2 linked regions of the Homo sapiens genome follow. The protein of the gene in region 1 purifies or fractionates together with the protein of each later gene. This does not show direct contact. Each region holds a gene or a part of one and is shown in the gene's direction. Other genes may lie near its edges. The genes, in order: PCTP and RAD23B.

Region 1 (4,480 bases):
CTTGTCTCCATTAGTCTATTGCCATATAGTAATAAAGCTTTATCAAATCAAACCTTTATAATGGATTCCTTGAAGATACTTGAAAATACTTCATAGCCAATAGTTTTTACACAATTGGTTTTTCAAGCAATGAATTTCCATTTAAATAAAATATGGATTTACAATACATAGAAAATTTACAAGGAGTTATAAAACAGTGGGAAAGTATGTCTAGCCTAAACTTTTGTGCATTTAGTCTAGGAAAATTTCACATCCCTCTTTCCACACCTATAAAGCCAAACAGAACCAGGACTGACTTGAGGAAAGCAATTATTTATCTCTGCTGTGTCTAACTAAGCAAGCTGCCAAATGTGATCATTTGCCTGATTGGAAAATCACATAAATTAAGACTTTGCCATCAACTTTCTTTCAAGTAAGGAAAGAAAAGCATTTCAATATAGTAATGCAAAACAAGTGGAAATTGTTATTGAACATTTACTTGGACGGGCACTGTGGAAAATTATTCCTTGTCCAACCACCTCCTCAGCTGTAACTGGTAGCACAATTCTTGACCCATTTTACAGATTAGGAAACATGAGTTTCCAGAGTTTATTGGCACTCACGTGGCTGTTACATCGTTTTGATGTTCAAACGACCTACTTTATTCAAAGTCAGGTAGTACAGTCTGCTGGTGGGAAATACAGTATTACTCAAGGGACTTCAAAGGAACAAGAAGATGTTTGAGTTGCACAGTGAGCTAAATTATGCAAGTTGCAGAAATCCTAGGTGGATAGTACGACACCTTTCAGATCAGTTTCTACCCTCAAGGGTGGCAACAACCTTGTAGATCCATTATGGATTAGGTTTCTAAACTGTTTTGGTGTTATGAACCCCTAGAGTCTTCTGGGGAATCCAATGGACCTCGTCTCAGAATAATGTTTTACAATGTATAGCAGAAAGAAGAGAAATTATATTGAAATACACTTCTGGCATTTGACCCCTTAGGATTTTTCCAGCATTTCTACTCTGCCCACCTCTCCTCTCATGTCTACCAAAGAGACTTTCTCTACTTTATTCAGAAAGGTAAATGAGAGACACTCAAACAGGTCTGTAGGTTATGGGAGTAGCAGGGAGTATGGGATAGGCTACTGAGGAGCTGTTTTTGAGGTGACATCACTGTCTCCCTTCCTTTTTCCCTTCCCTCTGGAAGCCTCCTTACTTCTCCAGCTCTTCCTTCCTTCCCCACATCAAGTCCAATTTTTCTCCTTTTACTTCTTGTCTATCCTCCTCACTCCTTGCTCAGCCCCGCCCGCTTTTCTAGGCCCGCCCCTCCAGGGCCCCACCCTCAGGCCGCTCCTCCAGTCTAGGCCCCGCCTTCTCCTCAGTTTCCTGCCAATGACGCTGGGGCAGCCGGGGCAGCCGGGGCAGCCCGGTCACCCCGCCCCCAGGCCCACACTAAGGGTGTCCGCGGCCTGCCCTCCAGGCGGAGGAGCCCGGACTGCGGAAGGATGGAGCTGGCCGCCGGAAGCTTCTCGGAGGAGCAGTTCTGGGAGGCCTGCGCCGAGCTCCAGCAGCCCGCTCTGGCCGGGGCCGACTGGCAGCTCCTAGTGGAGACCTCGGGCATCAGCATCTACCGGCTGCTGGACAAGGTAGCGGCCAACCCGCTGGAGGACCGCGGGGCCTAGAATGCGCCGGGGTCGACCTCCCCGCAGGGAGTGCGGGGCGGCAGTCGCGGAAGGGACAGGGGCGCGTCTTCTCCGGCTCAGGAAGGAGCTCCGCCCGGACCCTGTCTCAAGCTCTGGAGCTAGCGCAGGGGCGGTGCCTCCAAGTGACTGCCGTGCAGATCCAGGGGAGTTGGAAGGTCACAGGAGTTCAGCCTCAGGTCAGGCCCGACGGGGCATGTAGTTAGAAGTTAATGACAGTTGAAACGTGGGTCAGCTGGTTCCTAGGCCCGTGCACACGTCTGCAAGGGACGTTGATCCTCACTCTCCAATGCGTGTCAGTGGCATATGGGGGCTGGGGTGGGGGAGGGGCGGTATCTTAGGGCTTGGATATAGGAGGAAAAGAAACAGAACTTTTCAAGGACTGGATGTGCAGGGTGGTGTCAGGGGTTGCCGAGAAGGGCCCTACTGTTTTAGTGACTCGTTTCTTTTGGTTGTTGCCCCTTCCTTCCAAGTTGCTCTTAATAAGTTGAGTCCGAATCTTCAGGCAGGAGTAAAGATGTAGGAGGAATGGGATTGGTTGTTGAAGTCTTTGGAATCAGGTAGCCATCCAGGTGGAAGGCATTGCCCCTGAGGCCTGTCATCCAAGGCTTGTCATCAGTTGCTTTGTGTAATAGTCGCAGCATGGCAAGTAGGTTAAAAGTCGCCTGCAGGTAATGTGGGTGAAACTGAAGTTTCCTAATACAGGACCAGGATATTATAGTGTTAGAGTTAGGAGGATACCTCATGCTCACCTGGTTAAACCCCAGGTTTCATAGGTGAAAGCAACAGGCCTCAAGGGTGAAGTCACTCCTGAAATGGCCCAGATAAGTGAATAGCAGAGGTGGGATTGGAGGGTTCATGATCTTGTGAATGTCAAACATGTGGTTGCCTTTTTAGGCACTTGCATTTTTGTTTACATCAAATATAGTGTTTTTATATTTTAAAACAGAAAACAAACGTTTGCAATATTTAGAAGTTGCTCACCTGTTAAACAGGAATGAAAACTCTGCCTGTCTCATTGCAGGAATGAAAACTCTGCCTGTCTCATTGCAGGGTTGTTAGGGGGTTCAAATCCAATCTGTCAGATATGTGTGAAAATTTGATAGCTGTAAATAACTCTACAATGCACAGGACAGTGACCCCATACCTCTCCCGGGGAAGAATTATCCAGTCCCAAATTGTAATATTGCCAAGGTCAAGAAACCCTACTCTAAATAAATGGAGAATATAGGTATTATGAAGAAATTTCCTGTCTAAATACATATATATTTGCTTTGGATGCAGTCCGTCCCTCTCCAGTTAGTGGGACTGTAAAACATGCTATTTGGAATACTTACAAATTAGTAGGGCTGGCCTTTACATAATCCAGAACACAGCAGATACTGCAAGTGGCTAAGCTGCCATATTTACTTTTTTTCTGTATACAGATGTTATATCTTGATGGATTACTCACTCAACAAACTCTGAATGCTTGCTGTGTACTAGGACCATTGGGTTTAACAAGATGATCAAGAAGTTCACAGTCTAGAACAGGCAGAATTAATTTCTTAGGGTAACTTTAAAAGGTACCTTAGTTTGAAAATTGATACATTTTCAGAAAAAGTCTTTCTTTTAATTTTTATTTTTTAGAGATGAGGCCTTGCTATGTTGCCCAGGTTGGTCTTGGAACTCCTGGGCTCAAGCAGTCCTCCTGCCTCAGCCCTCAGCCTCCCAAAGTGCTGGGATTACAGGGATGAGCCACCACACCCAGCCAGGCAAAATTCTTTTATCTTCTCTGCTATTCCATTTTTCTTACCAGCCACATCAAGGCTTTGGCCAAGTTTTGTTGATTCAACTGCTCAGACGTGTCTAGCATCTGGCTTATTTCCTCCCATTTTCTTTCCTTTATCTTTGCTACTTTGGGTACTCAGCACCCCTCACTTAGAATTGCAGTGACCTCTTAACTAGTTTTTGGCCTACCAGCTCTCTGCTCCTGTCTATCCTACACCTTCCAGTGCAGTCAAACATCTGAGAAGCAGTGATCTTATCACTACCTTTTCAGTGGCCTATTGATTGCAGAAATAATAATAATCATCACTGTAATAGCTAACATTTATTGCATGATTTCTTATAATTCAGGTGCTAAGTGTTTTGGAAGTATTGATTTACTCAATCCTTGCATCAACCCTATGATAAGGTACTATGATGATCACCTTTTTACCTATATATAAATGAATGCATAGAAAGGTTAAGTTGGTTTCTCAAGATTCCAGCTAGGATCCAAACCCAGCTGTCTGCCTCCAGTCCTGTGTCTTCAACATGCTCCTGCATTGCCTCTCCAAACAGAAGGCAAATGCTGCCTGGTGGGTACACTGAACTAATTTGGTCTCAACTCACATTTCCATCATTCTCTCCCATTACCATAGACCTGACATCTTCTCCTCTAGCGAGCCCAGACCGCTGTGCCATCTTCCCTGTATACAGACGAGGCAGTTGAGGTCCAGGGAAAGTCAGTGGCATATACAAAGCACACGGCTAAGAAGTGGTGAATAAAACTGGGATTTAGATCCAAGTCCATCTGCCCATGAAGCCCCTACTCTTTCCCCAAGCCACACACACTCTTTTTCTAATAAAGCTTCCAGCATGTGGGATGGACCGTCTTAGGAGGGTGAGTCCTCATTATTGGAAGTACAGTACTGTGTTGGAGAAAAAACTCAAACTGTTTTTTTCATTATCTCAACATCACCAACAACACAGAAGCACAGAAGACTCCTGTGACCAAATGTCTGAGGATTTCTCTCCAAACACCAAGTAAGCAG
Region 2 (2,530 bases), on another chromosome or scaffold:
GCAGTCTTTAACCTTTTTGGCACCAGGGACCAGTTACGTAGAAGACCTTTTTTTCTACCAACATAGGTGGGGTGGGCGCAGTGATTTTGGGATGAAACTGTTCCACCTCCGATCATCAGGCGTTAGTTAGGTTAGGAAGTGGGGTGGGGCGGTGGTTTTGGGATGAAACTGTTTCATCTCACATCATCAGGCATTTGTTAGGCTATCATACGGAGCACAGACCCTAGATCCCTCTCATGCACAGTTCACAGTAGGGTTCATGCTCATATGAGAATCTAATGCCGCCACTGATACAACAGGAGACGGAGCTCAGGTGGTAATTCGAGTGATGGGGAGTGGCTGTAAATACAGATGAAGCTTCACTTGTTCGCCCACTGCTCACCTCCTCCCGTGCGGCCCAGTTCCTTGCTCACCCACTGCTCACCTGCTCCTGGGCAGCCCAGTTCCTAACAGGCCAATGGCTGGTGCCAGTTCACGGTCTTGGGGTTTGGGACCTGTGATCTAACTCAAGGTGATTGAGACAATTGAGGAGGGTGACATTTGGCTGAGTTTTTAAAGGCTTTTAAAAGGAGTGAGTATTGTCACAAGTGATTTTTAATATAATAGACTAGGAAAATGAAATTAAGTAGCTGGTATTACCATTTAAAATGCTGTAACTGTTAAGCAGATAAAAATAGAACATTATCTTCAAAATGTACCATGTATTACTAATAATTGGTCACCTGTTTTTCTAGTATGGAGTGTTGAATAAAGCAAGGAGATTGAGAGTGATGTTTGATCCAAATGAAAGACATGAGTTGACATTAATAAATAAAACATAATTTGCTTTTAATTTAGAAATAGGTGAGGTGGTTAAACTATACTGCAGGTACTCTCATCCTTATCTTCACTCTTAATATACTAAAAGCCATTTGATTTACATATTTCTGTAGAGTCATTTATTTTTAAACCATAGCAGTTAGCAGCTAATTTTTAATTAGGCCAAAGAGTATTTGCATAGTATCTATTAAGCTTTAACTAGAAACAAAGACTTTTTTAGGTGATTAGTAAAGGAAAGGGTCTAGATTCCATCTAATCCCTTGGGTTGGGCAGTAAATCCATATTGATAGAGATGAATTCATGTAAAATTCTCAAGAGCTTTTTTGGGTTGCAGTATGTTTTTGAGTAATGATTTATCTTTAGTGCTATGCTGGAATCTATAATATGTAAATAAAATTAAATGTGCCATAATTGGTGTGTTGGATTTATATTTTTTTCCTTTTTCTTCCAGTTAAAGGCATTAGGATTTCCTGAAGGACTTGTGATACAAGCGTATTTTGCTTGTGAGAAGAATGAGAATTTGGCTGCCAATTTTCTTCTACAGCAGAACTTTGATGAAGATTGAAAGGGACTTTTTTATATCTCACACTTCACACCAGTGCATTACACTAACTTGTTCACTGGATTGTCTGGGATGACTTGGGCTCATATCCACAATACTTGGTATAAGGTAGTAGATTGTTGGGGGTGGGGAGGGAGGGATCTAGGATACAGGGCAGGGATAAATACAGTGCATGTCTGCTTCAATTAGCAGATGCCGCAACTCCACACAGTGTGTAAAATATATACAACCAAAAATCAGCTTTTGCAGGTCTTTATTTCTTCTGTAAAACAGTAGGTAACTTTTCCTAGGTTTCACTCTTTTTAGTGTACTAGATCCAGAAACTTAGTGTAATGCCCTGCTTTATATTTCTTTGACTTAACATTGGTTTCAGAAAGAATCTTAGCTACCTAGAATTTACAGTCTCTGTTTCATGGCAACACTGGATAATGGCTTTGTGAAATTTAAAAAATTTTTGTAGCGACTGTAAACAGAAATGCCAAATTGATGGTTAATTGTTGCTGCTTCAAAAATAAGTATAAAATTAATATGTAAGGAAGCCCATTCTTTCATGTTAAATACTTGGGGTGGGAGGGGAGAAAGGGAACCTTTTCTTAAAATGAAAATAATTACTGCTATTTTAAAATTTCTTGATCATTGAATGTGAGACCCTTCTAACATGATTTGAGAAGCTGTACAAGTATAGGCAGAGTTATTTTCCTGTTTACATTTTTTTTTTGTTTTGGGGAAAAAATTGGTAGGTGTCTAATTACTGTTTACTTCATTGTTATATTGCAGTAAAAGTTTTAAAACAACCATTGCATGTTTGCTTTTGATGTATCCCTTTGTGAAATTAGCACTTTTGGGGCCAATGGAGAAATGCAGCATTCACTCTCCCTGTCTTTTCCCCTTCCCTCAGCAGAAACGTGTTTATCAGCAAGTCGTGAGTCAAACTGCTGCCTTTTAAAAAACCCACAAAATGCTGATTCAGTTCAAAATTAATGCAAATGTTTCAAAACTGGGTTTCTGATATTTGTAAATGTGTTTCTTTATTAGATAAGAGTGTATTACCATTAAAGTCATTAGTATAATATTGCTTTCAAAAAGAAATGGTAGACAAAACTATAATCCAGCATCTTTTATTGCATTGGAAAGACTGGCAAAGTCTTT

The links.
Region 2: the proteins of PCTP (region 1) and RAD23B purify together in Homo sapiens (affinity purification with mass spectrometry; one large-scale study listed by BioGRID and IntAct). This does not show direct contact.

Annotation. Positions count from the first base shown.
Region 1 is NC_000017.11:55,749,617-55,754,096, forward strand, and holds the start of PCTP (phosphatidylcholine transfer protein), read left to right. Parts: upstream 1-1,434; 5' UTR 1,435-1,487; coding exon 1,488-1,628; exon of another isoform or gene 1,629-4,472; intron 4,473-4,480. UniProt on the Homo sapiens protein: Catalyzes the transfer of phosphatidylcholine between membranes. Binds a single lipid molecule.
Region 2 is NC_000009.12:107,328,273-107,330,802, forward strand, and holds part of RAD23B (UV excision repair protein RAD23 homolog B), read left to right. Parts: intron 1-1,270; coding exon 1,271-1,384; 3' UTR 1,385-2,530. UniProt on the Homo sapiens protein: Multiubiquitin chain receptor involved in modulation of proteasomal degradation. Binds to polyubiquitin chains.